Regions from separate parts of the Homo sapiens genome. Here all the other regions are reported to be linked to region 6. The links are microRNA targets in miRTarBase. Many come from high-throughput screens and were not tested one by one. Region 6 holds a microRNA gene; each other region holds the end of a gene's coding sequence.
The links. The annotated mature microRNA hsa-miR-6771-3p reads CAAACCCCUGUCUACCCGCAG and lies in region 6 at 2,559-2,579, shown strand. An mRNA with a match to its seed (bases 2 to 7 or 8) in the 3' UTR can be bound and repressed. Matches are read on the target gene's strand: a 7mer-m8 pairs with bases 2 to 8, a 7mer-A1 pairs with bases 2 to 7 and ends in A, and an 8mer does both.

Region 1: miRTarBase lists TCEA3 as a target of hsa-miR-6771-3p. The part of its 3' UTR that is shown has no 7-base or 8-base seed match.
Region 2: miRTarBase lists ZNF639 as a target of hsa-miR-6771-3p. Seed matches in the 3' UTR shown: 7mer-m8 at 1,978-1,984, 7mer-m8 at 3,524-3,530, 7mer-A1 at 3,859-3,865 and 7mer-m8 at 3,954-3,960.
Region 3: the mRNA of OTUD7B is a reported target of hsa-miR-6771-3p. Seed matches in the 3' UTR shown: 7mer-m8 at 2,863-2,869 and 7mer-m8 at 1,180-1,186.
Region 4: miRTarBase lists TTL as a target of hsa-miR-6771-3p. The part of its 3' UTR that is shown has no 7-base or 8-base seed match.
Region 5: miRTarBase lists BEST3 as a target of hsa-miR-6771-3p. The part of its 3' UTR that is shown has no 7-base or 8-base seed match.

What each region holds. Positions count from the first base shown.
Region 1 is chr1:23,377,860-23,381,966 of GRCh38, forward strand. TCEA3 (transcription elongation factor A3) reads right to left here. Exons shown (of 11, transcript NM_003196.3): 11 at 3,050-3,615. The coding sequence ends at 3,607. Among named protein-coding and RNA genes, the nearest start is that of ZNF436, 10 kb to the left of the region's middle. RefSeq lists an enhancer at 326-395.
Region 2 is chr3:179,334,003-179,338,100 of GRCh38, forward strand. ZNF639 (zinc finger protein 639) reads left to right here. Exons shown (of 6, transcript NM_001303426.2): 6 at 1-4,098. The coding sequence ends at 420. Among named protein-coding and RNA genes, the nearest start is that of MFN1, 12 kb to the right of the region's middle.
Region 3 is chr1:149,940,125-149,944,231 of GRCh38, forward strand. It overlaps OTUD7B (OTU deubiquitinase 7B), which reads right to left. Exons shown (of 12, transcript NM_020205.4): 12 at 1-4,107. The coding sequence ends at 3,733. Among named protein-coding and RNA genes, the nearest start is that of MTMR11, 5.3 kb to the left of the region's middle.
Region 4 is chr2:112,528,509-112,532,615 of GRCh38, reverse strand. It overlaps TTL (tubulin tyrosine ligase), which reads right to left. Exons shown (of 7, transcript NM_153712.5): 7 at 1-3,935. The coding sequence ends at 3,821. Among named protein-coding and RNA genes, the nearest start is that of POLR1B, 12 kb to the left of the region's middle. RefSeq lists enhancers at 3,020-3,520, 3,521-4,021.
Region 5 is chr12:69,651,525-69,655,524 of GRCh38, reverse strand. It overlaps BEST3 (bestrophin 3), which reads left to right. Exons shown (of 10, transcript NM_032735.3): 10 at 1-1,916. The coding sequence ends at 618. All of the region lies in intron 3 of LOC105369823 (a long non-coding RNA gene), which reads right to left. Among named protein-coding and RNA genes, the nearest start is that of LRRC10, 43 kb to the right of the region's middle.
Region 6 is chr16:50,290,097-50,294,203 of GRCh38, forward strand. It overlaps MIR6771 (microRNA 6771), which reads left to right and starts at 2,520; the gene lies at 2,520-2,579. ADCY7 (adenylate cyclase 7) reads left to right here. Exons shown (of 26, transcript NM_001114.5): 3 at 361-564; 4 at 1,640-1,801; 5 at 2,580-2,729; 6 at 3,258-3,406.

The sequences.
Region 1 (4,107 bases), not on the chromosome of region 6:
GGTGAAACCCCGTCTCTACTAAAAATACAAAAATACAAAAAAAAAAAAAAATTAACCAGGCGTGGTGGCAGGTGCCTGTAATCTCAACTACCCAGGAGGCTGAGGCAGGAGAATTGCTTGAACCCGGGAGGTGGAGGTTACAGTGAGCCGAGATCACACCGCTGTACTCCAGCCTGGGCGACAGTGCAAGACTCTGTCTCAAAAAAAAAAACCTCACTCAAGGCCAGGCGTGGTGGTTCACACCTGTAATCCTAGCACTTTGGGAGGCTGAGACGGGCGGATCACCTGAGGTCAGGAGTTTGAGACCAGCCTGGCCAACATGGTGAAACCCCATCTCTATTAAAAGCACAAAAATTAGCCGGGTGTGGTGGTTCCAGTACTGGGGTTCTAGTACTTGGGAGGCTGAGGCAGGAGAATGTCTTGAACCCGGGAGGTGGAGGTTGCAGTGAGCCGAGATTGCGCCAGCCTGGGCGACAGAGCAAGACTCTGTCTCAAAACAAAACCAAACAAAACAAAAAACTCACCCGAAAGTAACCTTTATTGGCCTTATTAAATTGACAGTGGTTGCTTTTTGTTCTGCTTTTGGTTTCTAGACATTTGGATGGAGGATTACATAATACAGAGAAAAATCTGGACATCTAAGGCCTTCCTACTCAAAGTGTGGTCTGTGGACCAGCTGCATTGGGGTTAGAAATGAAAAATCAGCTGGGTGCGGTGGCTCATGCCTATAATCCCAGCGCTTTGGGAGGCTGAGGCAGGAGGATTGCTTGAGCCCAGGAGTTTGAGACCAGCCTCGACTACATAGGGAGACCCCATCTCTATAAAAAATAAAAAATTAGCCAGGCGTGGTGGTGCATGCCTATAGTCTCAGCTACTCCAGCAGCTGAGGTGGAAGGATCGCCTGAGCCTAGAAGGTCAAGTCTGCAGTGAGCCATGATGGCATTACTGCACTCCAGTCTGGGCAACAGAGTGAGACCCTGTCTTAAAAAAAAAAAAAAAGAAAAAGAAAAAAAGAAAGAAAGAATTGAACAATCTCAAGGCCCACCCCAGACCCATTGAATTGGAATCTGCATTTCAGCACAATGCCCAGTGAATTCTCACCTATATTAAAGTTTAAGAAACATCTGGGTTTCTCAGCAACATCCCCCTGCACGTCTGTGGATAATGTTGGTCCCTCAGATGTATGTGGCATTTATCGCATCCCGTCTGGTGTGGAAATCTGTGCCTATGGTTTCTTTCCCTGCCAGGCTGTGACTTCCTGGAAGGTAAGGGCTGAGCGCTGTGTATAGCTCTGGATCTCTTATAGCACAATGACAGGAAGCAGAAGACCTGGGTTTCTGTCCTGGCTCTGCCATTTATGAGCTCTTTGTGTTGTATCATCTGTGAGAGGATTTTCGATCTTTCCAAGAAAGGGATTCACCCCAAATCTAACTGTTTAAAAGTCAGAGACAGGCCAGGCGCGGTGGCTCACGCCTGCAATCCCAGCATTTTGGGAGGCCAAGGTGGGTGGATCACCTGAGATCAGGAGTTCGAGACCAGCCTGGCCGACATGGTGAAACCCCATTTCTACTAAAAATACAAAAAAAATTAGCCGGGTGTGGTGGTGGGCACCTGTAATCCCAGCTACTCAGGAGGCTGAGGCAGGAGAATCTCTTGAACTCAGGAGGTGGAGGTTGCAGTGAGCCAAAATCGTGCCATTTCACTCCACCCTGGGCAACAAGAGTGAAACTCTGTCTCAGAAAAAAAAAAAAAAAGTCAAAGATGGGGCCGGGCACAGTGGCTTATGCTTGTAATCCCAGCACTTTGGGAGGCCAAAGTGGGCGGATCATTTGAGGTCAGGAATTCAAGACTAGCCTGGCCAACATGGTGAAACCCTGTCTCTAATAAAAATACAAAAACTAGCCAGGTGGTAGTTGTGCGTGCCTGTAATCCCAGCTACTCAAGAGGCTGAGGCAGGAGGATCACTTGAGCCTGGGAGGCAGAGGTTGCGGTGAGCCAAGATTGCACCGCTGCACTCCAGTCTGGGTGACAGAGAGAGACCCTGTCTCAAAAATAAATAAATAAATAAAAATAAATAAAAGTCAAAGAAGGTGGAAGACTCCTGTACCTAGTTTATTTCCGGGCTTCATCTACAGGAGAAGGCACTTATGGATGGAAGGAAGAAGACAGTAACCAATTCTAGAGTAAATGATATCCAGGGTATATGAGGAACTTGGGTTATAGTTGCCCCAACAGCTTCCCCAAGGCTTTTCTAGAAGTTTCCAGCTTTGCTGAAAGTTCCTGTCAGCATCAAAAGCAAGCCGAGGCCAGGTGCAGTGGCTCACACCTATAATCCCAGCACTCTGGGAGGCCGAGGAGGGTGGATCACTTGAGCCCAGGAATTTGAGACTAGCCTGGCCAACAGGGCGAAAACCCGTCTCTACTAAAAATACAAAAAATTAGCCGGGTTTGGTGGCTTATGCCTGTAGTCCCAGCTACTTAGGAGGCTGAGGCAGGAGAATTGCTTGAACCTGGGAGGTGGAAATTGCAGTGAGCCAAGATCACACCACTGCATTCCAGCCTCTAAAAAAACAAAACAAAACAAAACAAACAAACAAAAAAAGCAAGCCAATAATTATCATGGGAGAAGCACGGCAAGGTCTCTGTGCTCTGCAGATGTGTTCTGAAGCTCAGGTCACAGATGGAGCTGTGAGGGACACATTGCTAGGGCCTGGGCAGGTTCTGAGGCTCAGGACTTTCAAAGGGCCATGGAAGTCAGAGTGCTGCTGTAATCTTCAGAAAGCCCACTCAAGAAAGCCCACTCAGAAAGCCCAGCTCAAGAGGATCTGTTCCCTGCCTAGAGGGATATGATCTGGAGTCCTCAAAGGCCCCCACAGCCAGCTGTGAACAGGGAATAGCAGAGAGTTTGGGAAGAGATGAGGAAAGAGTAGGGAAGAAATATTTCTATTAGGCCACTGCAAAAGTAACTGCAAAAACCACAATTACTTTTGCAGCAACCTAATACGTAGTATGGAAGTAATATCTGCTGAAGCCAAATGGTGTATCAACAGTTCTGCACGTGTGACTCGGAGGTGGGGGTGGGGTAAGGTTTGTGTTGATCTGGCATTTTTCAATTTGGAAAAGGCTGGGAGATCCAGATGGGAGAGAAGGAACTCAAAGCAAACGTCTGCCAGCCCACTGTCAAAGATATGACACCTCAGGTCTAAGGCGCTGCAGTTTCTTTATTTTTTCTTTTTATAGAGATGGGGTCTTGCTGTGTTGCCTGGGCTGGACTCAAACTTCTGGGGTTAAGCGATTCTCCCACCTCAGCCTCCCAGAGTTTGCAGATTACAGCCATAAACCACCGTGCCCAGCCCTCTGCAGTTTCTAAAAGAGGTTCATCAATACAAATTCTCAGCATCATTCTCCAATTAGGCTCCCCCATTAACCAATTGTTTCTAATGACCGATTATTAATTTGCAAGAGAATTCTTCCTCTAACTCATACCATCCCACTCAGACAGAGTTCAGTATTTTCCTTCACTTTAATTTTTATTGCTTCTCCAGTTCAGATAATTCAGCGCTTCCTCTTTCTTCTTCCTCACCTTGTTCATGGCTGGCTGTTCCATCAGCAGAACTACAAAACCAGAAAGGCAACAAAATTTGAAAGGTTTCTCGGCATCCTCCAAGGAGGCTGTGGGGGAATATGAAAAAGAAGGTGGTGTCTGGAGCCACACAGACCAGAGTCCAAAGCCCAGCTCTGCCATTATTAGCTGTGTGATCTTGAACAAATCACTCACCTGTAAAATGAGCTCATAAAGCTTGTGAATGTGAGAATGATATCAGGTAATAAATGAATGGCAATTCGGTGCCAGGAATGTGCTGAGCTCTCAATTTATGGTCAAGAACATCACTGGGATGGCTACTAATCACTTGGTTAGACTTTTGGTCTCCCACATGGCAACGGAGACCAACTGAAAATGTGTTCAGAAGTCTGTAGTTGTTACCTCTAGTGGATCCTGTCCCTCCAACTAGTAAGAGTCAAGGAAGAGGAGCTGGATTTAAAGCATTCAGAATGTCCTTTCTCTAACAGTAACAAAATCACAAGAGCTACATTTATTGAGCATTT
Region 2 (4,098 bases), not on the chromosome of region 6:
TTAAGTGATAAGTATAACAATGGTGAACATGGACAGTATAGCCTCTTAAGCAAAATTACCTTTGACAAATGTAAAAACTTCTTTGTATGTCAAGTATGTGGTTTTCGGAGTAGACTTCACACAAATGTTAACAGGCATGTTGCTATTGAACATACAAAAATTTTTCCTCATGTTTGTGATGACTGTGGGAAAGGCTTTTCAAGTATGCTAGAATATTGCAAGCATTTAAATTCACATTTATCTGAAGGGATTTATTTATGTCAATATTGTGAATATTCAACAGGACAAATTGAAGATCTTAAAATTCATCTAGATTTCAAGCATTCAGCTGACTTGCCTCATAAATGTAGTGACTGCTTGATGAGGTTTGGAAATGAAAGGGAATTAATAAGTCACCTTCCAGTCCATGAGACAACTTGATTATTCTCTTTAACTTACAGAATGTTAGTTTAAAATAATAAATTCATCCTTTTTTTGGAGATGATTAAATGGATGATTGTAAACACAACTTATGAAATCTGCCTTTAACAAGTAACTTTTTTAAATTATAAAATTTTATTGGCATTGCTCCATTTTCTGTATATAAATATATCTTTAATGTGGTATTTTCAATTGCGTGATAGTTTGTAGTTTCAACCACTCTTGGTGACTGTCATCCTGTTTCTTCCATATTCTCTGATTTCATGAATTGAAAAGAAACAAATGTATTGAAGAAGTGAGCTACAGTTTTCCTTCCTTAACCATGGGTGCTAGTAACTTTTTAAAACTCAAGACAAGATTAGTTTTTTATGTGTGAAGTCATTAAATTATTACACGACCAGAACTAAAATGCAATATACAGTTAAGTCCACGGATACTCCCATTAATGAGAAATAACACTAGGAAGCCACTATTACAGGAAGAAAAGATTTGGTTTTCATGGCAGTCTGTTTTTTTAAAAAAAAATTTTTGAGCCACTATCTATTGTTGAATATTTTAAGATGGGATGAGGGAGGAACTAATAAGGGCTTACACAATAAAAAATAACTATATCATAACTCATTCATAACTTGATGTTTCATTTTCTGTTGAGGAACCATAAATTCATTCACAGACTTAATATTTTTTTCTTAGAGATGGTCTCGTTCTGTTGTCCAGGATGGAGTGCAGTGGTTGATCATAGCTCCCGGGCTGTAGTCTCCCAGGCTCGAGCAATCCTCCCACTTCACCCTCCTGCATAGCTAGGACTACAGGCATGTGGCACCATGCCCGCTAAGTTTTTAAATTTCTTGTAGAGATGAGATCTCGCTATGTTGCCCAGGCCAGTCTCAAACTCCTGGACTCAAGCAATCCTCCCACCTTGGCCTTCCAAATCACTGGGATTATAGGCATGAGCCATTATGCCTGACTCTTGCCCAAATTTCTGATGTCAAATTGTTCATTGACAGAAAACCCACTGAAGTATTTAAAGTTAGGAAGATCTGGGAGATAGGGGTTGCTGGCATGAAAATGTATAACTTACAACATTTATTAATAAAATGATAAATTAGCATCAATATTAGTTCGTATGGCTGCCATAACAAATTACTACAAACTGAGTTGCCTACCTAGCAGAAATTTATGGTCTCACAGTTGTGAAGGCCAGACATTCAAAATGGAGTTATTGGCAGTTGGTTCCTTCTGAGGGTTGTGGGGGAAGGATCTGTTTCAGGTCTGTCCTTGGCTTGTAGATGGATAGCCTCATGTTCACATGGTGTTCTCCCTGTGTGCAAGTCTGTCCCCCAAATTTCCTCTTTTTTTTTTTTTTTTTGCTTTTTTAATTTTTTGAGACAGAATTTCACTCTTGTCGCCCAGGCTGGAGTACAGTGGCGCGATCTCAGCTCATTGCAACCTCCGCCTCCCAGGTTCAAGTGATTCTGCTGCCTCAGCTTCCCAAGTAGCTGGGGTTAACAGGCGTCAGCCACCATGCCAGGCTAATTTTGTATTTTTAGTAGAAACGGGGTTTCACCACGTTGGCCAGGCTGGTCTCAAATTCCTGACCTCAGGTGATCCACCTGCCTCAGTCTCCCAAAGTGCTGGGATTACAGGCATGAGGCACCGCCCCAGGCCAAATTTCTTGTTTTTATAAAGACTCCAGTCATATTGATTGGATTAGGGCCCCTCCCAATGTCCTCCTTTTAACTTAAAGACCTGATCTCCAAATAAGGTCATATTCTAAGGTGCTGAGGTTTAGGACTTCAACATATGAATTTGGGAGGGAACACAATTGAGTAGCAGAGTCTGAAACAGCACTATAAAGAAGATAGAATTATATGTATCATTGCCCTCAAATTTAACAAGCACTGCTAACATTATTTTTTAGGTTTATTGATATAAGTGGAAGATCAATTTATGACCAATGATTTTCCCACTTCAAGAATTTAGTCTGTTTGGACAATGGTGGCTGCAAGTATTCTTAGAAGGTATTATTTTTATCCCCACTATTTTGTTGTATGTGCATACCTGTGTTCCTAGCAACTCACATTCCATCTAATTATAACATTCCTGTTACGGCTGATAACAAATGTTTCTCAGAAGACTTAAAATTGTAACAGTTTAAATTGTAAGATAACCTTAGAAAGCATCTGGTCTAAACCCTCCAGTTTTCTAAGTTCCTTGCAGAAATAGAAATGTAGATAGCTATGAGGCCAAGTACATATAACCAGTTATGTCTCATGGGAGTGGGATCCAGGTTATCTGGTTTACTGTCTAGTGATGTTTCCATTACATCATGTTACATAAACCTAACCTTTCTCCCTGGGATGTTTTTTGTGACTACTTCACCTAACAATTAACCTAGTTGTTGATAATTTTGTTTTTATGCTTTTTATACATCTAGCTCCAGGAATTGGATTTTTGGAAAAACACCTTAAGTAATGCCTTGGTTTGTTTGTTTTCTTTTAATCTATTTGCTGCTTTACATTTGGATCAAGTGTTAGTAATTGAAAAGATTGCAGGCTGGGCGTGGTGGCCCACGCCTCTAATCCCAGCACTTTGTGGGTGGCTGAGATGGGCAGATCACGAGGTCAGGAGATCCAGACCATCCTGGCTAACAGTGAAACCCCGTCTCTACTAAAAATACAAAAAAAAATTAGCTGGGCGTGGTGGTGGGCACCTGTAGTCCCAGCTACTCGGGAGGCTGAGGCAGGAGAATGGCGTGAACCCGGGAGGTGGAGCTTGCAGTGAGCCGAGATCGCGCCACCACATTCCAGCCTGGGTGACAGAGTGAGACTGTCTCAAAAAAAAAAAAGAAAAGAAGAAAAGATTGCAATGCAGCTACTCAAGAGACATATATCCAAGTTTCAGAACCATATAATTTTGTACTTTTTTTTTTTTCAGACAGTCTTGCTCTGTTGCCCAGGCTGGAGTGTAGTGGCGTGATCTTGGCTCAAGGCAACCTCCACCTCTCAGGTGTAAGCAATTCTCCTGCCTTAGCCTCCCAAGTAGCTGGGATTATAGGCGTGTGCCACCACACCCGGCTAATTTTTGTGTTTTTAATAGAGACGGGGTTTCACCATGTTGACCAGGCTGGTCTTGAACTCCTGACCTCTTGTGATCTGCCCACCTCGACCTCCCAAAGTGCTAGGATTACAGGCGTGAGCCACTGCACCCGGCATAATTTTGGACTTTTTGATGAATCTGCAGCTTCAGGACCTATCCCAATGACAGTTTGTCCCACAAAACCTTTTCGCCTTGGCCCAGTTTTCAAATCAATGATTGACCATAAATTGCTTGAAGTAGTTGGTCTTTATTTATTTATTTTTTGAGATGGAGCCTTGCTCTGTCGCCCAGACTGGAATGCAGTGGCGTGATCTTGGCTCGCTGCAACCTCTGCCTCCCGGGTTTAAGCAATTCTCCTGCCTCAGCCTCCCGAGTAGCTGGGATACAGGTGCCCACCACCACACCCAGCTAATTTTTCTATTTTTAGTAGAGATGGGGTTTCACCATCTTGGCCAGGCTGGTCTTGAACTCCTGACCTTGTGATCCACCCACTTCGGCCTCCCAAAGTGCTGGGATTACAGGCCTGAGCCACCACGCCCGGCCAGTCTTTATTTTTAACTTAAAGAACTTCAGAAAAAC
Region 3 (4,107 bases), not on the chromosome of region 6:
GCTTTATTCTTTTGGGCTCAGTATCACCCCGCAGATATACAACACGAAGTCACTGCTAATTCTTGTTTGTCTGTGGGCCTTAGTTTCGCTTGATAGAAAAAAAAAAACTGAGCTAATAGAGGGAAGGTACTTCCCTTCCACTGCCCTCTACAGCACTGAGTTTAACACCATCTCCACTCCTTAAAAAGACTGAATCTTTAAAAAATCTTTGGATATAATCTTTTTATTTTGTTGATAAAAACCAGTATGGAGGAAAAACTTCTGGTTAAATCTTGTAACTTTCAATAAATGCAGCATAGGTTAAGGGAGAAGCGGAGGCCTATCCTACAGTAATACTTACTCCATTGGAGATGGGGCAGAGAGCACAGCAGGGAGGGAGTAGCACTGTCTAACATCAAAAAGGGAAAAACAAGAACCCTGAAAATCTCCCCTCTCCATTAAAAACTTCAGTAGGTACCCCAGTTGCCCTGGATTAAAGGAACTAAGTGCACTTAAATTTAAGCCTGAGAGATGATATCATCCCTCACTTGGGGTTAAAGGGTCTACCTTCCCCCTTCACTCACACACCCCTCCTTAACTAAGGAATTTTTCTGCCCATTTCGAGTGCAGGCCATATGCCCCTTCTTTCCTTCTCCCCAACCCAGTAACGACATGGGCTTGCCTCTTCTATTCCCTCATCTTCCCAAAATACCACAAACCAAGCTGAATCTATATTAATTTCCCAGGCATTATTCCTTCACCTCCCCCCATCCCACCAAGACCCTCCCCGAAAGAATGAAGCAAAACAAACTTCACTATCTCCTATAAAAAATATCCATTGTCTCAGGGTCTCTCATCCTTAGAATGGAGAGGTTTTTCAATGCCTCAATAAATAGTTACCCTCCCAAATAAAAAAAATAATTTATTTCTTAATAAAAAGCTATAAGGCCTAAAGCCCCATTTTACCATATTCACCCCTAGACCACCCCTCAAAATTTCCATCTTTTTTTATTTGAAAATAAAGCAAACGGAATTGGGATTGGCTAACTTATAAATAAAAACAAACATGATACAAGGTTTTTTGTTCATTTGTCCTTAGTTTTTAAAAACAAAAGTGTTAACTAGAATCTAACAACAGATCAAATCCAAACACAGCAGTCCAGTGGAGAATCAAAACTTTTCCGGCTTTATTCTCTGGGAAAACCCCTGGTCTGTTTTCATTCCTATTGGTCCAGGCCACCATTCTATGATATGAAGGCCTAAATTAGGAAAGCTAGGTGAGCTGTGCAAATTCAGGGTGTCTGAGCCACCTGTTGTTTGGTGTGTGATGGGGGTGGAGGCGCACACAGTGGTGTTCTCGCTAGTGTTCAAATCACAGAAACAGGGACGTAACTAGGGTGAGGTGAGCAAAGCACTCACCTTGGGCACAAAATTTAAGGAGTGCCAAAAAACCCAGTAACCAAGATAAATACTATTTTAATGCAACATTTTTAAAAAATCACAATTAATGTAAAAAGTCTATGATGGACAATGTATCAAAAATTTAAATAAGAAGGATTCATCCCCATACTTATTCAATTCAGCCTCACTTCCCTCCTCCTAATCTCAGTCCTGTCAGATCCTGTAAGATTTCGCTATTTTATCCAACATAAATTTTTTGCATTAATTTTTTTAAATACTGCATTTTTTATAGTATCTTGATTAATGAGTTTTATAGTAACCCTTAAATTTTGCAACTTAGGGGAGTGCTCATCTCATACCAGGTTCCAGACCTGCCTAGACATATACACATCCCTTCCTTTGGAATCTCACTGCTTCCTTAACACAAATCTATTTTCAAAGAAAACCCTAAGAATTAATAGCCATAGGAAATTATTAAATCAGATTTGGAAAATAGGTGACTTCTGAGTTTGTTGAGGAGAAAATAACCTTTATAAACCGTGAGCATTTCCAACAAGGACAATCTTGACTGGCTACCGAGGAGGAAAACACACACACATATGCACGCACGCACATGCATGCACGCTCAAGTGCTTTAGATCAAATGTGGGGATTACGTTCCAAGGGATGGGTTATGAGTACATACCTCAAAAGAGAAATCCAAACACAGAAAAACAGCCCCAGTTAATACTCTGGACACATAAGTACACTTATTCCCCTTCTTCACATGCACCCGGGAGTGTATACAATTGCATAGTTGACTTTTTTTCCCGGAAAAAAATATAAAGAAAAAGGAAAATTGGCCCAGGATAGGTCTTCCGGTTTAAAGCTCTTAGAAATGGCTCTGGCCAGAGCATAGGCTGTTCAGACTTGTGCTTTGTGCAAAATGCGAAGGAGCTCCCCCTACTGTGTCCGCATCCCCACTCCCAGCCCCTAGAGAACAGGGAAGGGTCAGGGAAAGGGAGAAACCTAAAGACAGATCAGCTCATTGGGAGTCATCTGTGCTCTGTGGTTATAGTTCACTAAAATATATTTCTCTAACTACCTTTTTATAAATTGCCCCTATATGTTTCAACATCAGTCCTAATATCAAAAATATCTCTTCTTAGAAAGTATTTTTAATTATTTTAATAAACTAACCACAGATTAAGGTCAGCTATGGCTTAACAAAAGAAGCCGGGATGTTAAGTTCATTCTCCAAAAGTAGAGCAAAGGGAGAAAGAACCACTTAAGTAGGAGGAAAAAAAATCATTTTTTAAATGTTTTTGCTTGCTGGGGTCTTTTTATTTCTTTTCCTTAAAAAAAAAAGTCAATAAAATAAGTTGCTTTCTACAGAAACGCAGCAGCCACAGAGGCCTGTAATGCTCTACTTAGGTTTTTGGTTTTGTTTGAAACAGCCTCTGGCTAAAATGTCTGTCCTCCCACCCCTCCCAAGGTGCACTCAAACCCCAACGTATGGTTATTGCTGTGGTTAAAAAATAGATCAGCTCTGCCCCAATTCACCTGGAGAAAATGCAACACACATGACGGCTGTTCTCACCACACTCTTCCCTTTAAACAAATACAATTAAAGACTTAGATGAGGAAAAGACAGGGGGTAATCAGCAATCTCTTCTCAAACTGTAACAGATGACATATGACTGCTTGGAAGGAAATAAACCTTAAGAGGAAAAGGATTTCCCTCTTAAGTTCCTCCCTTTCCCATCTAAACAAACGGATTTAAACTACCCCCACCTCCTAACAGGCACCCATGAGGACACATTACTGCCTTGTCTTTCCAGATCCTTCAAGGGGAAGAATTTATCCAACCTTAATTTCTAGCTTAATTCAAATCAATAGCAAATGTGTCCAATTTCCCACTTCCCCTCCACACTTCTCACTCCACCATGTGCTTTTTCCCAACCTAAAGAACTTTGGTTTTATTGACTGAGAACCTCCTTTGCCCATTCCTCCCCAAGACTTCTGCCCACCTCCCACCCCCACACACCAAACCTTCCCCTGCTACTTTCTCTTAGGTCCCTGGATGGGACCCAGGAGGTTATAAGACAGAATCGCCATCTTTTCCCCTTGTACCTCAAACCTCATCAAGTCAAGCTCTGCAGAGGAATAGTACAGCCCCTGAGGTGCCATCCAGCCCCGACCTGCTCTTGCCAGCCTGGCAGCACTCCTGTGTGCACACACTTAAAAGTTTCCAGCCAGGCTCCCACAAACATTACTGCATTTTCCCCCTCAACATGGGGACTGTGTTCTTGATGAGCCAATTAGTTGAGCTTAACTTTGTTTAGCCTCCTTGCCCTTCAGTGTTCCACCCGTTCAGAACCTGTGCACCAGGAGCTCCCCATCCGGTTCCCGCTCCCTCCTCCTCAGTTCTTCCCTGTAACAACAGGAACAGAAGTTGTTTGTCTCAGGGTGTCCATAGAAGCTGCAGTTCGGTTGTTTGCATTTGGTCTGAGTTGGGGGAAGGCCCCGGAGACCTCCAGCCCATCCATCTGGCTCAGGGGGCTCTCTGTAGCCATTGCTATAGGAATCAGCCACTCGGTAGGGGGGTGGTAACAAGGCACCCCTGTGAAGTCCATCCTTAGAGTGGCTGCCTGGCTCCAGAGAAGGGATGCTGTCCTGGTGGGGGTAGGGTCGCCCAGGAGGGCACTGTCTGGGGAAGGTGGCATATGGTGGTAGGCCCCCGACACA
Region 4 (4,107 bases), not on the chromosome of region 6:
GAGACAGGGTCTTGCTCTGTTGCTCAAGCTAGAGTACAGTGGTGTGAACATGGTTCACTGCAGCCTCACACCTCAGCCTCAAGCGATCCTCCCACCTCAGCCACCACCACATGCCACCATGCCCGGCTAATTATATGGTGAATTTAAATGACCAGTGATATCCCAGGACAGTCAATACCTACAACAAGAACCAAAGAGCACAAAAACACTTGAAATATCATTACTTTACTTTAGTGTTCCAGGCATTTTAAATATTCATACAATCGCCTTATTTCAGCAGTCATTTCCTCTCCAGTACAGATTTTGTGTCCAGAACCAGAGCCATGTACGTCACTGAATTTTCTCTACAGCACCCGCATGCTACACGGGACCTACTCCGGTGCCCATGTCTTTGCTAGTAGAGCCTCTCACCACACTTGCAAGAGGGCTGGACCTCCCCTTGCTTGATGTAGCCTCCACTGTGAATGAAAACACACTTTGTCACTTCGATCACAGTACATTTCCAGCACTCCCAGGTGTTCCATGTATGTGGCAATCATCCCACAGAGCTAGTGACACATCATGTCAGCTGGTACCTATGTCAGCACCTGCTCCACTATATCATACAGATGCTGAGGCACTTAAATGTTCTTGGTAAAATGGAGTTCATAATTGCCATAGGAGTTGAGTTTTGGGGAAAGGGACTTTCAATAATTAATACCCTTAATACATATTTAGCAGATTTATAATTTCGTGTCTGTTTACATTTGTTGTCAAAGCTTCATAAACTATTTATGTAAATGAAAGCATGTTTGAGTTTCCAAATGCTGCTATGACAAGCAAACAGAGAAACTGCTTAGACAACACCTGCTTGTGCCATAAATACATACGGCAACATCCGGTCATCCTTAAAGAAATGCTTGTGTTTCCAAAAAGAATTTTTTTTTTTAAGTCATAAGCCTTATGCAATTCTTCCAAGATAATAATGTGTTTGTCCTTCCTTCTCAAGCATGGTTCAAGGCATCTCAAGGCATATTGCTGTCTGAGGTTCTGATTTAACTGTCCGGGGGTACAGGGGAAGAGTGGGCACTAACATTTTTTAAAAGCTTCACAGTCATTCCAGCATGTAGTCAGTGTTGAGAACCTTGGTACTAAAGGCTCTTGCATCTTCCTACTGTCACTTGTCCTCATCAAAAGCCCTTGAGGTAGTCCCTGGGTCAGGCAATGATCTCTTTCATGGGCTAAGAAACTAAGGCACAGAGAGGTTAACAGGCTCCTCTGATACTGTGCAGTCAAATGACAGAACCATGATTGCAACTGACATTTCCAAATAAACCATGACTCCTCCCCCAGCAACGGGTAGCACTTACATGGACCAAAAGTATGAAGCCTGACTGGGAGCCAGGCATAACCTTCTGTGTCAAGGACATCATGGAAGGGAAAGGAACAGTTCTGAACCAATCATTCCGCATGAACAGAAATAAATACATAAAGCCAGGCTTGGTGGTGTGCACCTGTAGTCTCAGCTACTCAGGAGGCTGAGACGGGAGGACTGCTCAAGCCCAGAAATTCGAGGCTGCAGTGTGCTATGATTACAACTGCGAATAGCCACTGCAATCCAGCCTGGGCAACACAGTGAGACCACGTCTCTGTAAAATTTTATTTAAAATTTATTTAAAATTTATTTAAATTTATTTGAAATTTAAAATCAAATTTTAAAAATTTAAAAAATATTTTTTAAAAAGGAAATAAGTTCCTAAGATACTTATTGGAAGCCACATGAGGAATGAGGCATAACTTTTTCTTTTCTTAAAAGTCTTACTTCCCTCTTATATATGCCATTGAGTCAGGTTTCTCAGAAAATCCATCAAGATTCACAGACTTCCTGACATCTGAATTCTTAGCTCTGTTACTGTGAGGGCTAGAAAACTCGTGAATGTCTCTATAATTTGGGTCCAAAAGATAATTACAAACCTCTGTTAGCATGTGACAGCAATACAAAAATGCCCATGCTTTCCCTGTCACCCGCCCACCTAGACTTGCCAGGGACCCAGAACCCTACACGTTCTAACTGGGTATACATCTTCCCAGGATCCGATCAGATCTCACTCCCATCTCAGAATTTCCCAAACACCAACCCATCGGCTGCGTTGGGCCTCAAGGATTAATGACTACAACTGACTGTTTTATTTTGCTCTACAGGCAAACTTTTAAATCTGTATTCTGGGTAACCCCCAGGACGTTTATTTTGTAATTCCAAATTTCCATGAGAGCCAATTCACCTGGGACCTTCTCCACTTCACCCCAAGGTAACACCCTCACATCCTATCAACTATTGCTGTACCTAAGAAATAATTTCTATCATTATTGCCTTTTTCATTGTAAGTTCTCACATCTCATCATGTTCAAGGAGGCATTGATTTTCTCCTCTTTTGTAAAAGTCTCACCTGACTGCAGAAATGTTTTCTTGAGCCAAGTAGAAATGAGGAATGGAGCACACATAGGCATGAAGAAAGAACGTAGCACGTTCTGGTGGGGAGGGCAGTTTTCAATGGGTTGCTGTGATTTCCAGGACACTCTAGGAAGGGCCTGTTTACTCAGCTTACACTGAACACAAATGACATCTTGTTCTCCCTACTGCTAGTGATGTGGCCTCCTGAAAAGCCTATAAAGTATTAGTTAATCCAGTAAGCGGAAGCCACTTCTAACAGTACACATTTGTTGAGATTTACAAGACACTGTGTGGAGATGAAACCACTTCTTTCCCATTTTAGAAGACTTCCCCATTCAGGCAGGATATATACTCTCCTAATACCCACAGGCACAGGAACTCGAATCCTTCCTGGAAGGAAACCTGTCCCTCTAGCTACTGCAGAAAGTGCTTGGGGGCATAAAAAGAACAAAAAGGGGGAAAGCAACCTTTGTCTGGGGCAGGGCCACTTGGGGAGTGGAATTTTACTGACTCCTCATCCTCAAAGAGGTTTTTACAAACGTTTAAAAAAAAGTAAAAAAAGAAAAAAAAAGGGAACTAGGCAAAACTGCATTTAGAATTTTGGTTAAAGCAAAGAAAATTGAGAAAATTGAATCATCATATTTTCAAAGACCTACCATATTCAACCTATTAAGTAAAGCAATATATCATGTTTTTTTCTCTCTCATGCTTATTTGATGCTTACAGGTTCAGGGCAGACTTGCCACTTTGTTTCTAAAACATGCAGAGAGCAGACTTAGAGCAGCATATGCTGTTTTGGGGCCCAACCCGCACAAACCCTGACAGGTGACTGACCAAACACCATCAGGAAGGTGATGAGGGAAACCACCTTTGCCGAGAGGCCAGTGCACAGCACAAAACTAAGGACTGTTGGTGCATGCTTGTACAGAGCTTAGTGTGGCAGAGTGTTACCGAAGGGATGGGTGGGGAACACACAGGCAACCTCCAATATGCTCTGACGTCCAATCCATAGTCCAGAGCAGTGGGGCTGCAGCCGGGCATGGAGCTAAGGCACTAGGGCTGCAGTGGGTGGGAGGCACCGACCAGAGGTCCCAGTGCCCTGCCGTTCCCGGGGAGAGGGGAAGGAGCTCTGCTCACAAAGCTGCCTTTGTGTACCAAAGTTGTTTTCAAAAGTCTCAACAGCACTGCTGAGAGCTACATCTGGGAAGCCCCCTGAGCAGCCCTCTCTTTGGGAGCTGCCTCCTCTGCTCACGTGCCTTCTTCCATCTCATCTTTGCGAGTTGCCTTTCTTTCCCCTGCTGTGGGCTGGATAAAGAGCAATCCAGTCATTTCACCATTCCCTGGAGCAGGACCCCGTGCTTTTTCCAAGGCAGCAGGGAGTGCCCTCTGTCACAGCTTGATGAAGGCAGCTGGCTGGGTCTGAGGTTGCTCCACATCTGGGGGTGGGAAGACACTGGAAATGGCTATGTCCACGATGCCTTGGCACAGTTCTGCATAGAGCTTCCTGAAATGTGTTTTTAAAAATATCATTGAGGATGTTCATCAAAGTACAAGCAAAAAAAATAGATGTTTTTTGTTTTTGAGACAGGGTTTTGCTCTGTCTCCCAAGTTGGCATGCAGTGGTGCGATCATGGTACATACACTGCAGCCTCAAATTCCTGGGCTCAAGGGATCCT
Region 5 (4,000 bases), not on the chromosome of region 6:
TTCAGCATGGGAGAGCTGTCCACCATCAGGGAGACCAGCCAGACAAGCACTTTACAGAGCCTGACCCCACAGTCCAGTGTGAGAACTTCCCCCATCAAAATGCCACTGGTACCTGAGGTATTGATCACAGCAGCCGAAGCACCAGTGCCCACATCAGGGGGCTACCACCATGATTCCGCTACCTCCATCTTGAGCTCTGAGTTTACAGGGGTTCAGCCAAGCAAGACTGAGCAGCAGCAGGGCCCCATGGGATCCATCCTGTCTCCCTCAGAGAAGGAGACACCTCCTGGAGGCCCCAGTCCCCAGACAGTTTCAGCCAGCGCTGAGGAAAATATATTCAACTGTGAAGAAGACCCTGGTGATACCTTTCTAAAAAGGTGGAGTCTTCCGGGATTCCTGGGGTCCAGCCACACTTCCCTGGGAAACCTAAGTCCAGACCCCATGAGCTCTCAGCCAGCTCTTTTAATTGACACAGAAACATCCTCAGAGATCAGTGGGATCAACATTGTGGCTGGCTCTCGAGTCTCTTCTGATATGCTGTATTTAATGGAAAACCTGGACACCAAGGAAACAGATATCATAGAGCTGAACAAGGAAACTGAGGAATCACCCAAATGAGTGCCACCAAGTTCTAGGACCTGGTTCTAGCCTAGATTCTTACCTCCCCAAAAGCAGCATATTAGGCCCAGGACATACCTGAAGGCTGGTCGACTTTTTAAAAAACATGATCACACTGTATAAGCTACTTAGAACTTTGAAGGGCATTATGATCCTGACTTTTTGAGAGCTGCGAAAAATCAAACGCATTCACGTCATCCAACACAACATGGCTTTCATCAGAAGTTACACAGACCACAGTGATTTAGCCAAATAAGTCTTAACCAAAAAAAGGAATCTGAAAAACATACATGACTTATAAATTCATAGATTATTAGTTGTGGAAAGAGTCTCATAGATCATAGTCCAATCCCCTAGACCCAAAGGCCCAGACACGCAGGGTTCTCTATTTCTCTTCTTTTTTCTCTTTCTTTTTTTCTTTAGCCATAAAGAAAGGAGATGGATCACCTAATGCCTGAAAGATCCCCTCCTTCCTAACGTTTTTGTTTGAGGCTTTCTAACCATCTCATTCCTACTTTTATAACTATTATTGTTATTATCACTTCCTGATTCTTAAGCTTCATCAGCACCAGAACACTTAATTCTCTTCAATTTCCTTTTTTACTTTTCTCTCTTTTCCTTTTATTCTGTCATCCTTTTTTTCCCTTCCCTTCTCCCTGGTTGTGCTGCTTTTCTAGTAATCTGTCCCATTTTTCAGGTTATAATATTTCCTCTTGCCAAATCTGTTGCTTATGTCTTGCCATGAATTTCAAAATATAAGACATTGGCAAAGCCTCCTACAGAATCATCAAAGGTGTCAACAAATCCAGCCTGATACCCTTCCAGTCTCACTTCCAGTGGAAGGCATATAGGAGTGATGGTTCCCCCCGTGCCCTTGCAGCCATTGACATTTCTTTCTGCTTCCACTATTTGGTGTTGGGCACTGGAGAAAAACGAAGCCAAGAGAATATGAAATTTGCATAGCCAAATGCTATGGAACCAAAGAATAAGATGACTCACATCTGTTTAACTTGAACTCTTATGCAAAAATCCTAATCGTGTCGCAACACGGGACCAGTTACTGTGTCTATCGGGTCATTTGGGAATGGGCAGGATACTGGAGCTGGGAGGCTAATGGGGTCCAGAGCTGCATAATGGGGATCGGATGTTGGTACTCCTCCCAGGGAGCTCTCAGGACAGCTGTTTGTCGTGGGCTCCCAAGTGCCTAGGCCATGCCTTACGACTGCTGCACTTACCATTTGTCATATGATGGCACTTGACTACATATGGCTTTAGAAATAAAATAACCCTCAAAACTACCATTTATTGAGTGCTTACACTGTTCCAGGCAGCAGCGAATCTTATGAGACTGATATACTGTTATTTCCATTTTAAAGACGAGAGAAACAGGCTTTAGAGAAGTAAGGTATTTGCCTAAAATCACATAGCCGAGAAGTGACAGTGTTCATCTTCAAACCCAGGTTTATCTGACTCAAGAGCCCACACTGTTAACCACTATGCTTTCTCACTGCCCTGTGCTATGTGTAAGGCCCTGAATCTGCCAGCAATTTGCCCAGCATTCTGGAGGATGCCCCAAGGGAGGCATGCCCAACTCACAGATTCAGGCTAAATCTCTCCAGCCTCAAGGGCCTCTCTGGGTCCTCCCCGCTCAAGTCTACCTGCGTCTTTTATGCATTCATAGAGAAGGGCATTGCTCCAGCTTGGAGTACCACCCATAGTCCTCTTCATTTTTCATGACAGAAAAAAGTTGGCAGGACCCTCCTTCCCTTCACCAACTCCTCCTGATACGCAATGTTCAAATTAGCACATTTTCACAAGACCTCATATCTCCCAGGCCTCCAAGCTGCATGACAACAATGACATTTACTTTAACTGACTTTTCTCAAAGGACTGAAAAGAAATAATATTAGAGGAAATGCTATACCTTGATGGTTCTCTATGTTGGTTGGTAGTGTTAGCATCTGGGAAAGCCCCGTTATTCCCAAAGCACTACGTATAGACTATGGGATCAAGAGCCAATATAACACTTCTAGAAGGCAGGATCCCTAACCTTCTCCCAGTCACCAGGCTCTTAATGCTATTTTCTTGGGTATTTCAATTTCAGTCTGTCTATTCTCTTCTCTTTAGCTCTGTCTGTTGCTCAAATTCAAGTAAGTTTCTACTTAGCTGCTTTTGAAACATAATCAGTTTTCATTCCTAAATCCAAGGTGATAAATTATACACAAATATAATAATACATTTATGAAGGGCTGGCAGTGTTCATTTATCTCTGCTTCCACACGCCCCTTATGCACTTTTATCCAGATAATTTTTTAATTTCCTCAATATTTCTTCAAAATTTGAGATAGACTCTCATTTTCTTCTTGCAATGAAAACTAAATTATGACATGCTCAATGAGCCCGTGTGGTTGAATTCAGCTATAAAATCAAACCAGCAATTGCTCAGAGCAGATGAAGAAATTCTCTATTAATTCTAAAATGAGTTTTTACTCAACACAGACCACGGTTGAAAAAAACAAAATGATTTCTTCTCATGTACCTGATTTCATTGCCTGCCTAGCTCCTTTTTCCCTGAGTCCTGGAACCTTCACCCACCTGGATGAATGGTCACATGGCCTGGTGGCTTAATCTTTTGAGTTTGCCCATTCCAAGAACAGGCTCAACTCTCTCACATTAAATGTGATCCAAAAGCCAGAGAGTGCGGTGAGGCCAAGCTCTATTTGTTGCGTTCTCTCCCTGCTTTGTAGAGATAACTCTGCCCTGATGCTGGGGTTTGTAGTTCAGTAAGGAAATGGCCCACTAACTTTTTCTCAATTTTCCAAGAATTTTAGAGAATGACTGGCACCCAGCAAAACAAAGAAGGCTGTTATCTCCCCTTCCTTTATTGTCCTGTCTACTTCATGGTGTATCGCCTCCACCACTCCAGACATCCACTTTCAGCCTGGTTCAGCTAAGCTATGGAAAATATTTTAAATGGAATGGAGAAATGTAAAATTTGCCATGAAAGTAAAGATTTGTTTAAATCTTAGAAATACTCCTCTTGTTTTTGGTGTTTTCGCCTCTAGCTTCCTTCTTCTCCAGAAAAATCAATTCAATTTTTTTCTTTCTTTTTTTTTTTTTCTTTTTTTTTTGAGACAGAGTCTCACTTTGTCGCCCAGAGCTGGAGTGCAGTGGCACAATCTCTGCTCACTGCAACCTCCACCTCCTGGGTTTAAGCAATTCTCCTGCCTCAGTCTCCCGAGTAGCTTGGATTACAGGGACCCGCCATCACACCTGGCTAATTTTTTTGTATTTTTAGTAGAGACAGGGTTTCACCATGTTGGCCAGGCTGGTCTTGAACTCCTGACCTCAAGTGATCCACCCATCTTGGCCTCCCAAAGTG
Region 6 (4,107 bases):
CTTTACAAGGCTCTGCCTGTGAATGAGTCCTGCCCTGTGCTTGTGGTATCACCTGCGGCTGTGCACAGAGCACCGTGGGAACCCAGAGAGGAGGCAGAGGCAGATGGAGAGTGATGGCATCATGGGCGGGGCTGTGGGTGATGCTCTGGTTCCCGAGATGATGGGAAGGGGGTGGTTGAGGCAGCCTTGGCAGAGGTGACAAAGGCCAGAAGGTGAGTGGGAACCAGGTGTGGGAGGGTGCATCCACACCCTTCACGTGGAGGAAGCTGTAAGTGAGGCAGCCGGCCCGGCAGGCTTTCTGGAGGAGGTGGCTCTGCACTGGGGAAAGCCGAGGCATTCCTGTCTGTTTGCTCCACCCAGGACCCCTCCAGACACCAGGCCATTCTGGGCATGGCGTTCCTGGTGCTGGCGGTGTTTGCGGCCCTCTCTGTGCTGATGTACGTCGAGTGTCTCCTGCGGCGCTGGCTCAGGGCCTTGGCGCTGCTCACCTGGGCCTGCTTGGTGGCGCTGGGCTATGTGCTGGTGTTCGACGCATGGACAAAGGCGGCCTGTGCGTGGGAGCAGGTAACAGGAACTCTGGACTCCCTGCCAGCTGCGCCTTCAGCAGCTCCCATCCCCGTGGTTGGTGGGCATGCCACAGGCCCTTCGTGCCCCACGCTTGGCTGTGTGTCTAGGATGGCCCCAGGCTGGTTTTGTCCCTGTGAGTTCTCTGCATTGACAGGGCTGAGGTGGGGAGAGCATCCACTCGGACGCTGGGCTGCAGCACTTTTGGGTGGCTCCAGTTTGGTTGGAGATGACAGAACTTCAGCTCAAAGAGGCAAAAAGGCACAAACTGGTTCCTGTGTCAGGAAAGGCCAAGGGGTCAGTGCTGGGCTCCAGTGGGTAACTGGAACTGGGGCCTCTGGACAGCTTCGGCCCCGGGCACGCTGTCCCCAGGTGGGGGCAGAGAAGTTCACAGCGGCTCCAGGCTGCCCACCCCAGTTGAGAGAGAGGGCCCTTTCTCAACCAGCTCGACCTGCAGGCTTGAGCCACACTGGCCTGGCTGTGGTCATGGGCCCAGTCCCAGAGAGGCTGTCACCAAGCGGTAGCACACTCTGACCAGTGGGCCTGGGTCCTATGACAGCTCCTGTGGCTGGGGCAGGGTGGGGTGAGGCCCAAGGAAACCATGTGGACTGAAGGGGAGGGAGAGGGCAGCACTCCCAGAGGGGTGGACGCAGGACCAGCCGGTGGGGATGGTGGGGCAGCTCTGGGGGTGGAGGGAGGGCGGGTGGGGCCGCATTGCTGGAGGCAGCTGGTGAGAGGGTGCCTCAGCCTCCCGGTAATCATTTCTGCTGAGCGAGAACCACGTGGCAGGGGCACCAGGTGGGGGCTCCCTGGATCACGCGGGGCATGGAGCCTCCCACCTAGGGTGGCCACAGGCAGTGGATCAGCACAGGAAACCATGAACCTTGTGGCCGGGCCCACCCTAGAAACACATTATGGCTTTTCTTGTTCCCTTGTATGTCTGCCCACGCAGGGGGTGGCGAGGGAGCCAACCTAAGGATACGCACTGGGTGGGCTGCTGTGGTGCAGGGTTCCGGGGGCTGTACGGCCTGGGGCAGCATCTTGGGGCACCGGGCTCACCAGGCTGCATCCACAGGTGCCCTTCTTCCTGTTCATTGTCTTCGTGGTGTACACACTACTGCCCTTCAGCATGCGGGGCGCTGTCGCCGTTGGGGCCGTCTCCACTGCCTCCCACCTCCTGGTGCTCGGTTCTTTGATGGGAGGCTTCACGACACCCAGTGTCCGGGTGGGGCTGCAGGTGAGGGATGGGCTAAGGCCTCTGGGGGAGGTTTTGTGGTCTGGGTCTAAGGGCAGATGGGGGGGCCCCCTCTGGGTGAATCAGACCCGAAGGCCCCGGAGCCGTGTTTGCAGACAGCCCGCTCCAAGGCCGGGCCCTCTCCACGTCTGCTCGGAAGCTGGGCTCCAGGCGTGGCCCTGCCCTCTGGCCTTTGCTTTGCTGGCCTAGGGCTCCCCTGTGGCTCAGCCCTCAGGGTCGTGACCTCAGGCCTTGCCTCCCGGTTCAGGGACACTGTCGTGGGGTGAGTCCCATTGCCGAAGTTTCCCCTCGAAGGCCCTGTCCTGGCGGGGCTTGGGGGAGTACCCCAGGGCACTGCCTTGTGTCTTTGTGTTGAATGAGTGAATCTTCTGTTCATAATTATTGGGTGTTTAGAGAAGTGTTTTCCCTCTGACCAGGCCTGGTGTCCTCTCCAGGCAGAGGCTGGCCCTCCACACAGCCAGCTGGGCGCTGTGCCCTCTGGGACTGCCCTTAGCACGCATGCCCCTCGGGCCCTGGGCTCTGTGAGGTGGTCTCTTCTGCCTCCCTGGGTGTCCTGGTCTTGCAGTCCTAGTGACTCACTAGGAGACTAGCTCCTGTCTGGGCCTCAGTTTCCCTGTCTGCCCCAGGAAGAGTGCCATTCTCAGTGGGTTGAAGGTCAGGGAATGGGAAGAGGTGCCATCACTAGTCCGCCTAGGGGTCTGGTGCCTCGGGAGGGCATGGGCCAGGCCACATAATGAGCCAAACCCCTGTCTACCCGCAGCTGCTGGCCAACGCAGTCATCTTCCTGTGTGGGAACCTGACAGGCGCCTTCCACAAGCACCAAATGCAGGATGCATCCCGGGACCTCTTCACCTACACTGTGAAGTGCATCCAGATCCGCCGGAAGCTGCGCATCGAGAAGCGCCAGCAGGTGGGACCCGGCCCCCACTCCTCACCCTGTACACCCCTGTCCTCTTCCTCTTTCTGTTGGACATGAGACACTCATGCTGCCATGTGCATGAGGTGCATGGCCAGACACCCATGCAGGTCTCACCTCGGTGAGTCCTGGGCTCCAGCAGGGTAACCATAGCCTGCTGACCCTTGACTCTGCCTTCCTCTGTGTGGTTTCAGTCCTGGGCACGCAGTCCCCAGGTGGCGGCAGAGAAGGCCGTAGTGGCTCCAGGCTGCTCACCCATCAGCTTAGCCTCCCCAGCTGAAAGAGCCCTTTCTCAGTCACCCTGAGTCCCGGGGGCTGCTGGGTACATGGGAGGTAGATGCTCAGTTGGGTTGGTGGAGGACAAGAGCAGAGATGGGGACATTGTGGGCAGGGCAGGCAGGCAGGGAGGATGGGGGCCAAGGAGGCCAGGTCTGGGACCTGATGCTACCCTGCCTGTCCCCCGCTGGTCCCTCCGCCGGTCGCTTTGCTGGTCCCTCTGCTGGTCTGCCCACCCACACCCAGGAGAACCTGCTGCTGTCAGTGCTTCCGGCCCACATCTCCATGGGCATGAAGCTGGCCATCATCGAACGGCTCAAGGAGCATGGTGACCGTCGCTGCATGCCTGACAACAACTTCCACAGCCTCTACGTCAAGAGGCACCAGAATGTCAGGTGGGCGGTGAGACGTGTGATTAGCATATCCCGGGGACTGGGCCCACCGTTCCACCGGCCCCCAGGCGGCCTCCCCGCCCTATCTGGAGGCTCAGACCCCTGCCCATATAGGGATTGGGAGAGGGCCCCATGGTTCCAGGTCAATCTGGGGCCCTCCCTGGGTCTCAGAACCCCCACTTGTGGGCAGGATCAGATCAGGGCTCTTAAATTAGAGAATTTAGATTGGTATTGAAAGATCTAGCACACCCCCAAAACTGTAAAACTGTGTGAGCAAACATAGCTTTTGTGAAGGAAGGGGTCCTTTCAGATGGTTCTCAAGGGAGCACAGGACCCCCAGAATGAGGTAAAGCCCCCCGGCCTTGGTGCCCAAGAGTGCCCCGGTTCTGACACCTGTCTTTGGCTGATTTGCAGGGAACCACAAAATTTTACTTGAATGCACTGACCTGAGTTTGTCAAGTGTCGATGTGGGTGCTGGGTGCCGTTGAGTGTAGATGTGGGTCCCAGGAGACCCCCTGGGTCCTCTGCCTGCAGCGCCAGCATTACATCCAAGGCTGGCCCGCTGCCTTTTCTCTGGGCTGTGGATGGTCCATGAGCTTAAGGACTTTGGAGCAGGGAGAACTGGTGCAGATGCCAGCTCTTGGCTTCCCAGCAAGTCTCAATGTCCTGGAGCCTCAGTTTGTGCATCTGTAGAACGGGAGTTC